2 separate regions of the Homo sapiens genome follow, and region 1 is linked to region 2. The links come from fine-mapping of genetic effects on gene expression. A gene starts in region 2. The other region holds a variant in brackets. All regions are shown on one strand. Distances are between the middles of the regions.

What was found. PIP is the estimated chance that this variant, and not a neighbour inherited with it, causes the effect.
Region 1: its variant is the best candidate, but not a certain one, in a credible set for the expression of PPL in whole blood (GTEx, PIP 0.73).

The regions. Positions count from the first base shown.
Region 1 is chr16:4,891,386-4,896,747 of GRCh38, forward strand. PPL (periplakin) reads right to left here. Exons shown (of 22, transcript NM_002705.5): 10 at 4,209-4,331; 11 at 3,876-4,022; 12 at 3,082-3,233; 13 at 2,156-2,253; 14 at 1,828-1,985; 15 at 650-828; 16 at 426-564. It overlaps LOC124903637 (a long non-coding RNA gene), which reads left to right and starts at 4,331. Exons shown (of 3, transcript XR_007064965.1): 1 at 4,331-5,195. RefSeq lists an enhancer at 3,873-4,718. The variant C/T (reference allele first, on the strand shown) is at 2,870.
Region 2 is chr16:4,934,497-4,939,858 of GRCh38, forward strand. PPL (periplakin) reads right to left here and starts at 2,652. Exons shown (of 22, transcript NM_002705.5): 1 at 2,488-2,652. The coding sequence starts at 2,549. RefSeq lists a silencer at 2,595-2,994.

The sequences.
Region 1 (5,362 bases), 43 kb before region 2:
GCTCTGCTCAGCAAGAGATACTGGGAACATGGATTGTTATGTGCTTTATGCTTTTTTTTTTTTTTTTTTTTTTTTAAGAGATAGGGTCTTGCAACGTTGTCCAGGCGGCTGGACTTAAACTCCAAGGCTCAAGCAATCCTGCCCCAGCCTCCTGAATGGCTGGTGTTACAGGCATGTGCCACTACACTGGCTATTGCAGATATTTGATCTTAAAATGCTGGCACCCGAAATCCCGTAAGTCACACAGATCCCGTGAATAGCTTGGATTTGTGCTGTGGGCCTCCATTTGCAGTTCCCAATTTGGGCATTCCAAACCTGGGGAGACTGGATGCTGGTGTCCTCATCTATCCAGACGGGCGGGTGGATGTGCCAGATGCTCTCACCTGCTCAGAGAAGGACTCCCAGGACTTGGGCCCTAGACTCACCGCCAGCTCCTGCCCCTTGCTGTCCAGGACACGGCTGCTCTCAGGCACTGTGTCATCCTGATTCAGATGGTTCTCGTGTGTGGCCAGCAACTCCCAGCTCTGCTGCAGGCTCTTCTCCAGGCGGTTGGCCACATCAACCCTGAGAGCACCAATCAGGCGTCGGGGGATGCCCACCTGGCCCCCTGACCCCACCCCAACCTCCATGCTGCCTGTCTGCCACCCACTTCTCCTGGGCCAAGTCCAGCAGCTGCAGGAGGTGCTCGTATTTCCGGTTGGTGTCCTCCACCCGGGTCCTCAGCAGGGGTGTGGTGCCACTGCCTGGGAGGGCCTGGATGAAGGCTTCGCCCTCAGCCGTGCTCCGCGTCTTCTCAGGTTCAATCCGCAGTAGCTCGTTGGTGATGTTCTGTGGGAACCAGGGCCCCTCAGTTTTGGACACAGCCAGGCAGCCCCTTCCCCTGAGGATGTGCCCAGGGTGAGCACAGATTCCCACATCAGGCACAGTGGAAGCAGCTGGAGAGGCCTGGCACATTCTGGGGCTCTGACCCGGCATCTGGACCCCAGCCTGAGGGCTGTATTTTTCACGAGCATCCCAGGGAACCGCTGAGGTGGAATGGACTAGTGACACCAGAAGCACCCAGGCAGCTGCCGGGCCTGTGCTGTCCTCAGCACTGCACGCGGACGCTTCTGTTTAATCTTTGCGGCAACCCCGGGAGGTGAGTACTACGACTCCACCCAGTCACGGGTGGGGGTGTGACGACTCCCAGCAGCTTAGGAAGGGACTTGTGGGGTCAGGCTACACCCGAGACCGGCATCCTCTCGCCCTGACTTGGCTCTCACTCTGAGGCCCCATCAGGGGCTATGGCACTTCTCCAATCCCAGATCCTCTTCTGTAAAATTGGAGTGCTACTCACTGCCTCAGAGGGCTGCCTTGAGGATGTGGGAGACTTTGTATAGGAAAGGAGGTGGGGGGAGGTGGCCCCTCCACGTCCCCCCTGGCATCAGCTCACCCTGTCCTCGCCACTGCCCTGTGAGCAGGGCCAACCCATCCTACTGAAGACACTGAGGCCTGGAGTTTATAAATACAAACGCTAACGTGTTTGCAGTCAAGCCAGCCGGTGACCCAGTCCTGCGGAATTCCACAGCCCATGTGCCATGCCAGGCGTCAGATCGACAAGCCGTGCAGGAACAATGCAAGTCCTGCCAGCTCTTTCTCCTGGGGAGGTAATGACAGCAGCCCTGCCACCTCCATGACTTGGGACCCTTTTACATGCAGCAGGCTGTCCCTGACAGACAGCTGCAGTGAATATCCCAAGACTCCATGGGGAAAAGACCTCAAATAGGGGCCCCAGGGGGCCAGTGCAGGGCTCCCCCGGCCCCACCTGTGCTCCTGACCCGCAGGTACCTTGAGGTCCTTGGCCCGCTCGGCACTGTCCTGCACAGCCCGGCCTTGCTCCAGTGGTGGCCGCAGGATCCCTGTGATGGCCTTCTCCTGCCGGTCCAGGTCGCTGGCCACCTTGTCCAAGCCAGCCAGCAGCTGCCGCCCCTGTAGGTCAGAGGCATCTGTGGAGGGAGGGAGGACACAGGCAGGTGTGACAACGGGCCAGGGGTGTGAGGCCCAGGGATGGACCTAGGCAGCCAGCCCCCCGCCGTCTCATCCACAGCACAGACCCTGGTCCAGCCCCTCCTCCCCGGTACCCCCAGAGCCTCAGGCGAGTGGCCCTGGCACCCACCTCCGGGATTCTCGGTCTTCAGCACCTCATACCGCTGCTGCAGCGTGCGTTTGCTCCCAGCTGCCTTCTGCCGCACGCTCCGGTACTGGCTGCCCAGGCTGTGAGGACAGAAATGAGCTGGGAACCTGGGCAGCCCACCACCCCCTGCACCCACAGAGGCGGGACTGCGGACTCTGGCTGGGCAGACACCCCAGAGGAGCCTGACAGCTCCTTAGATGCGGACAGCAAGTGCTCACTGTGGCACTGGCCTTTCTGTGCTCCTGGGCTCAGAGCTCTTCTCCCTCCTTCCCTCCTCTTTCGTAGGAAGTCTCACTACCTAAAATTGTCTGTCCAATAATCACCACCAAGATGTTACTTCTGAGGGAGCATACACAGTAGGTGCTCAATAAATACTTAATAAATGAAGGCATTCCTTGAATGATCCACTCATTCAGCAAGGAGTTCCTGGGCACCTACTTTGTACCAGGTACTTAACTAGGCCCTGGAGAGAGGAAATTCAAGGAGCCCAGGCCCAATGAGACTGACGCATACGCTAGTCACTTAATAAAAAGCGGTGCGTGCAGTGGAAGAAGGTGCCTGGGAGCAAAGAGGAGGCAGCCCTTATCCCAGCTGAGTCCTCCAGCCAAGGGGCTGGGGTCTGCAAGTACAGGGAGCAGTGCGTGCGGGAGTCAGGGGCCCTTAGAAACTGCTTAGAAACTCGTGAGGGGGCCAGGA[C/T]GAAGCCCAGAGCTAGACATTCATGTTTAGCAAGTCAGCTGGCCCACAATCTGCCCCTCTCCTGCATGAACTTCCAAGGGGGTGCAGATGGAGAGTGTCAGCGACCCCGCGCTCCCCACAGGCTGAGTCCAAATCCCCGGGGCTATGAATGGGGCCTGAGAAGCCCTGGGGGTGGGACTGGTCCATGCAGACTCCCGCCTTTGCCCTTGTACCTGTCAGCCAGAGCCAGGGCCTCAGGGTCTGTGGGGGGGATCACAAAACACACGGCCGGAGCAATCAGCTTGTTCCCAGCGCTGTCCATGAGCTCCCAGCTCTCCCCGTTGTTCTTCTGCAGGGTGTAGCTGTAGCCCCGCGAGATCAGGCCCTGGCGGGGGCAGGCTGGACAGTCAGGATCCCGGCAGGGCCTGAGGGCCTGGGAGCCCGGTTGCCATCTCAGCCCCCGACTCTTGGACCTGGGGAGCCCCGGCTCATCACTTGGACCCTCCCCGTAGAGTGGGGAGGGGCATGCAGGAGAAGCACATGTGTTGAGGCTGCCGGCCCAGCAACCCACCTCCATTTCCCTTTGGGGAACCTTCCCTCCCAATTCCCAGTCCCTGTGGTCTCTCCTTCTCCATTCCCAAGCTCCAGATGGACATGTGACTTGGACCTGGCCAATGACTGGCATTCGCCAGCCACAGTCATTGGTATAGGGTGGACCCTGGCATTCCCTGGCCACAGTGATTGGTGTAGGATGGACACGTGACTCACAGTGAGCCAATGAGAACCTGGCCTGGGACTTCTGAGGAGGGACTGGGGTTGCTAAGCTGGTGGAACACAAGGCCAGGGCAGCCGAGGTGGGGGCGGCATAGGGGTGCCAGTTGGCCTGCACCAGGGGAAGGGTTGGCAGAGTGACACCAACCACGGAGACAGGCACAGGCTCCTGAGAACGGCGCCTGAGGCCCGGGATCCAACCATGTTACCCCAAAAACTTTGTAGTGATGTGAACAGAGGAGCTGGCCCCACGCACCTGCTCCCCCTCAAAGTCACAGAGTGCCTCCACGGGGATGGGCTTGAGCGGAGTCTCCCGGCGGTACTTGAGGGGCACCACCTGCTGGCCTCGCTTCTGCAGCCCCTGCACCACGTCCTCATACTTGTCCAGCACCTTCTCCTGGTCCTGGAGAGAACGGGGTCAGGGGCCCAGGTGAGACCAACAGCCTTCCCCCTGGTGGGAGGACGCAGAGCAGGGGCTGGATTCAGCAGGTGGGGTGCTGTGGAGGGGCCTGTACAGGGCTGAGGGCAGGCATGGTGTAGAGGGGTCCCCCGCCCCCCGGGCCAGCAGGGGTCCTGGGCCATCGCTCACATCCAGCTCCCGCAGCAGCAGCTCAATCTGGTACCGGTCCTTGAAGTCAGGGCCATACTTCTGGTTCAGGTCCGAGTCCACCTTGCGCAGCAGCTCCTGAGCGTCCTTCACGTCTTCGTGAAACTAGGGGAGAAGGTGGCTCTGTTACAGCCAGGAAACCACTAGAAGCACCTGGGCTTCTGTCGGAGGCTTCAAGCTCATCCCTCAGGCGGGGCTGGGCCTCCGGTTCACCTGGAGTCCAGCATGGGACCCTGTGCTGAGCCTGAGGCTCCTCTGCGTGGAGACAGCCCCACCCTCCCTGAGCTGGCTCCTTAGGGGCCTCACTGGGAAAAGCCAGGTCCCTTCCCACCCATCCATGAGATGCCACCTCTGTGACATGTTTTCTTGGATGTATCAGTAAGTCTTGAGGTGTCTTTGATTCAGTTCCTCTCTCTGTACTAGGAACATCCAGACTTAATACTATAGCTTCTTTCTAGGTTTTGATAATAGCCTCCCCTTTTTGTTCTCGAAAATTCTCTTGCCCATTCTTCAGTCTATCAACTCTTGGTTCACTGTCAGCTATCCCCTGGGCTGAGCACCTGGGCTGCAGCCATAAACAGGACCTGAAGCCCCCACTGTGCGGCTCAGACAGGGAATGAGGAGTGACACGGCGTCGCCCACATCCAGCTTTCCCCAGACACCTCAATCCTAAGAATTACCCGCAGCTTCTTAAGAACTCTCATTCCTCTGGAAACAGACAAGTGTCCAGCCACAGATGAGTGGATAAACACAGTGGTCTAGCCATACAATAGGATATGATTCAGCCATAAAAAGGGGTGAAGCACTGAAAATGCTACAACACGGATGAACCCGGAAAACATGATGCTCAGTGAGAGAAGCCAGACACAAAAGGGCAGAGATTGCATGATCCCACTGATTCTTCATATTCGTTCTAGGTGTGACACTTCTGGAACAGGCAAGTCCATAGAGACAGCAAGAAGACCAAAGGTGACCTGGGGCTGGGGGAGTGGGAATGGAAAACTTACTGCCTAATGAGTACGGGGTTGTTTTTTTTTTTTTTTTTTGAGGCGGAGACTCACTCTGTCGCCCAGGCTGGAGTGCAATGGCGCGATCTCAGCTCACTGCAACCTCTGCCTCCTGGGTTCAAGCAGTTC
Region 2 (5,362 bases):
CCGTGCTGTGCAGAAAGGGAAAACAAGGCTTCGAGAGGCTCCAGGGTGGAGATGCCAGGATCAACAGTGAGGCATTCTGCTCTCAGTGCTGGAGCTCCTACTGCCCCCCATGCTGAATCTCACCAGCAATTTTGTCCTCCCCCAGACAATGGAGCGGGCCCCTGGAAAACTCAGAGTGAAGGAATAACTTGGGGATCCACTCCCTGTGACCAGCGACCACAGCCTAGAGCCGCAAGTCTGTCCCCTCCACCCCCCCACCAAGACACTTGCTATGGGGCTGGCTGGGCATCAGGCAATGTTCAAGAGATGCGTTTGAGAGGATGGGGTACAGGGCTACCCCCACCCCACAATCCAGTCTGCGAACTAGTCCCCACTAAGGGGAGGGGGCAGAGGGATGCACTGGGCTTGGAGACCACCCGGGGAGGCATCTGACATCTGCTCAGGGCTGTGGCTGTGCTCATTCTGTGCTGGGGTGGCAAGGCTCAAAGGAATGGTCTTGCACCCCAGGCTGGGGAGAGAATCAGGAGGGCTTCCTGGAGAAAGAGACGTCTAAATGGAGATCTGGGACCAATGGCTATCAGCCTAGGACAGACCGTGGCTGCCTTGGGCCAGATATACAGAGAGTGGCAGGACCCCAAATCTTTGCCACCCCAGACCCTCCCAGTCCCTGCAGCTATAAAGGATGGGATGCCTTTCATCCTCATGCTTCTGGGAAAGCCCGCACCCCTCCCAGCTTGTCTGGGTTCATTAGAACCTTTTGTTAGGTCCAAGCTGGGGCCTTCAGGATGGAGAGCTGCACGAAGGAGGGAGGCTGGGAGGAGGCAGAGGGCGGGGCGAGGCCTGGCCCCACCACTGGTATGTGGGTGTCTGCATGTGTGAAGGACTGGATGGGTCTAGTCTCTGGGGTGGAGAGGACAGAACGGTTCTCCACGGCTGGCACGGAGCATCCAATTGTGCAATGCCCCAGGGAACAGTGCAGGGACTGGACGGGCCTCTGGTTGGGTCTGAGTGCCAGCTGGACGCAGCCATGGAGGAGGGGTGTGCAGGCCCTGCCCAGTCTCTGGGGTTGTGAAAGATAGGGGAGGGGTGGGGAAATCTCTAAAGGCGGGTAATGCCTCTGAGCTTGAAAGAGCCCAAACGGAGATACGGGTGGGTGGGATCACAGGGCAGGGGGGTTTCTGAAAGGGCTGGAAGGCCCCGGAATGGAGTGTCGCACTCCAGCGTGCTAGGGCCCCGCCGCCTGCACCTGTCCGACTGGTCGGCCTAGGCCGGACTGCAGGGGTTGAGTGGGAGCCCTGGGCCCAGAGGCCTCTCCTTGCCTAGGGAAGAAGTGAGGAGCTGCTTGAGGGCACAGTGGGGGCTCCCAGTGAGAGCAGCTTGGGGGCAGAACTCCCAGACAGGAGAGCCATGTAATGTGCGGGCCCCTCACCTGCCTGAAGCCTCTTGTCCGAGAAGCTGGCAAAATGGTCCTTGCTAGCCCAGAGCCCCCACTCTATTTTCCGAAGTGGGGATATAAGGCAGGGGCTGGATTCCCACCCCCTCCGTCAATCTCAGCATCTCCACCAGGCTCCCCTAAACCGGTTATTAAGTGAACACATTAGGCTTATCAAAAGGGACGTGGGCTGCTTCTCCCTGCAAACACATCAAGACATGCCATTCCCCTCCCAGGCCGCCCTGGGAACCCGCGGCTCAGAGACGCCGCCAGTTTCGGGGCTGGGGTGGGGGCAGGGAGCCACACCCCTGCGAAACCGAGCTTCGAAGAGGAGGCCCCGAAGCCGCCCAACCTCCGCTCAGAACCCAGAGGGTGGGGAGGTAAGGGGGTGCCTCCCCCTGTGCCCCTCGACCCGACCCCACACCCCCCAGGGCCTCCGGGCGCGGCTCTGGCGCGCAGGGTGGCAGGTGCCGGGAAGTGCAGCGGCGGGTGGCCCGCCCCCTCCGGACACCCATCCCTCGCCTCCCCGACGCCAGGAACACTTGCGCGGTCTCAGAGGCGCTGGAGAGCGCCCCCCGACGCCAGCTCAGTTTCCCTGCCTCAGGGCGCCCCCTGGACGGAGCTTCCTGGGTCGCCCGCAGCGACCCCGCCTTGAGTGCCCGGTCCTCCAAAAACTCCGCCCCCTCATCCAGGTGACTATTCCCGGTCCTGTGCGACCCTCTGCGCAAGAGCGACCCTGGGACACGGGGGTGCCCTGTACCCCCAGCTCAGCTGCCCGTGCCCTAGGCCCTCAAGGCAATGCTCCCTGGGCTCCCGGAGTCCCCTGTGTTATGCTCCCCCTCGGGGACCCCAGCCAGTCCCTTCCCACCTGGCGGCGCTTCCCAGCTTCAGGGTGGCCTCGGTCCCGCGTTCCCGAGAGTCCCGCACTCCGGGTTCAGTTCCCGGTTCCTGGACCCCCGTACCCCCCATTCCTACACTGCCCGGGAGGTCTTCCAGGTCCTGTGCGCCCACAGGGGCAAGAGCGTCCCGGAGCGGAGCTGTGGGCGCCTCCTCACCTCCGGGTCTGCACAGTGGGGCTGTATTTGCCTTTGTTTCTCTTCCTGAAGAGCGAGTTCATGGTGGCGCTCGGGGTGCGGGCGGCGGCGGCTGGCGGGCCGGGCGCGCACCGAGGGGCGGGCGGGAGCGCAGGTGAGCGAGCGGCGGCGCGGGGAGCCCGGACTGCGGCGCGGCAGTGGCTCCGGGTCCCTACTCGCTGGGGGCGGGGCGCCCGCCGGCCACTGGCTCTGCGGGCCGCTCCCCGAGAAGGTGGTGCTTACCTTCCCGAGGAGGGGCCACCGCGCGGGCGGGGCTTGGACGCGGGGGTGGGGACACTGGGTCTTGGCCGGACGCCGCCCACCCCCAGCCGGGGGACTCCGGAGGCCGGGCAGGCACTGGGGCGCAAAGGCCGCCGGGGCGAGCGCTCGCAGCCCCACCCTCCTCGGGCCCGGCGCGCCTCTGGCCGAGGCCTTCACCTGGTTCTGCGCTACCGCGGAACTCGGCGCTCCTGGTGCTTTGGCGGACACCCAGCTGGGCCCCGCAAGACAGGTGCGGCAGAGACCCGCACGGATTCATGTGCCCTAGTAGCTAGCGAATTGCACTCAGATGGTGGCAATTGAGGGAAGGGGGCTGAACTGCCGAGGGCGCCGGCCTGAGTTCAAGCCCTGCCACCCCCAGGTTGGCTGACACTCCTGGGCAAGGTGTTTTACTGCTCCCAGCCACAGTTTACTTCTTTGTCAAACGGTGATAACCACCACCCCATCCGAAAGGCCTGTGGGGATGTCCCTGCAGGTAATGCACGCAAAGCGCTGAGCGCAGTGCCCTGGCCTGAATCTGCTCTCCGCTTGCCATCTCGGGTGGACAAAAACTCCTTTGAAACTTCAATAACTCCAGGCCCTGGCACTAGAAGAGCGCTTCATAGCTGGTCATAAAAGCTGCTCGATTGCGGCTCAGAACAACGACGTTGCACAATTCTGCCAGCATGTCCTGGCCCAGACTGTGTGCCAGTGGAGGAGGCTGCCCTTAGACAGAAACCTAATCTGACCTGAAGCCCGGATGGCACACACCACCACACCTGGCTAATTTTTAAAAATTTTTGTAGAGGCAGAGTTTCACCATGTTGCCCAGGCTGGTCTTGAACTCCTGTGCTCAAGTGATCTGCCGGCCTACAGCCTCCCAAAGTGCTGGGATTACAGATATTAGCCACCGTGCCCAGCCAACCTTATTCTTAATGGGGCTTCTATGGGTGGGCTTAACCCATTTATGCCTGAGGTTGCAATTTTTTGAATTGATAAATCATACCTTGGCAGTGACCTTGAGCAGTAGGAGATAACTCCCACAGGCGTCACGTTCCAATAATGGACCACTAGGCGTAAATAGAGGTGTGATTCCTCCTAAAGTTGTGCCTGCCTGCCTGCCTTCCTTCTTTCCTTCCTCTCTCTTTCCTTTCTTGCTTTCTTGCTTTCTTTCTTCTTTCTTCTTTGAGACTCAGTTGCCCAGGCTGGAGTGCATTGGCACAATCATAGCTCACTGCAGCCTTGACTTTTGGGGCTCAAGCAATCCTCCCACCTCAGCTTCCCGAGTAGCTGGATCCACAGGTGTCCACCACCACGCCTGGCTAATTTTTAAAACCTTTATATTTATATATGTTTTTTGTAGAGATGGGGTCTCGCTGTGTTGCCCAAGCTGGTCTTGAATTCCTGGGCTCAAGCAGTCCTCCCACCTTGGCCTCCCAAAGTGCTGGGATTTCAGGTGTGAGCCACTGCACCCAGCCCTAAAGTTGCTTTCAAAATGTGTGTGTCCAAATGTGCATTTTTCTGGGGGAGGATGTATTGCTCAGTGGAGTCATTTACTCATTCAACACATGTTTCCCATCACTCTCACAGCCTCAGTGTGCCTGGCTCTGCTTGTTGTACACGGATGAGAAAAGGGAAAAGAACAACACAAAAGGGGCTTTCTCTTTGGGAGCTTTCAGGTCCCGGGGCAGGGGACACATATTAAAAATGTTAACTTGGATGGGCGCGGTGGCTCACTCCTGTAATCCCAGTACTTTGAGAGGTCGAGGCAGGGGGATCACCTGAGGTCAGGAGTTCAAGACCAGCCTGACCAACATGGTGAAACCCCGTCTCTCCTAAAAATAAAAAATTAGCTGGGCGTGGTGGCGCCTGCCTGTAGTCCCAGCTACTTGGGAAGCTGAGGCAGGAGAATCTCTTGAAACTGGGAAGGGGAGGTTGCAGTGAGCTCATATCACGCCACTGCACTCCAGCCTGGGAGGTCACAGTGAGCTGAGATCGTGCCACTGCACTCCAGCCTGGGCGACAGAGTGAGACTTCGTCAAAAAACAAAAACAAAAACAAAAACACGTTAACTTTTCTTTTTCTTTCTTTTTTTTTGGAGATAGGGTCTTGCTGTGTTGCTCCGGCTGGAGTGCAGTGGCGTGATCATGGCTCACTGCAGCCTTCCTTGACCTCCCAGACGGAAGCCGTTGTCTCTTCTCAGCCTCCCTCTCAAGTAGCTGGGACCACAGGTGTGCACCACCATGCCTGGCTAATTTTTTTTAAATTAATTAATTATTATTTTTTTTTTGACAGTCTGGCTCTTGTCGCCCAGGCTGGAGTGCAATGACACACTCTCGGCTCACTGCAACCTCTGCCTCCTGGATTCAAGCAACTCTCCTGCTGCCACCACGCCCTGCTAATTTTTGTATTTTTAGTAGAGACAGAGTTTTGCCATGTTGGCCAAGCTGGTCTTGAACTCCTGACCTTGTGATCTGCCTGCCTCAGCCTCCCAAAGTGCTGGGATTACAGCTGTGAGCCACTGTGCCTGGCCTTTTTAAATTTTTTTAATTAATTAATTAATTATTTAATTTTTTTTGAGACAGAGTCTTGCTCTGTC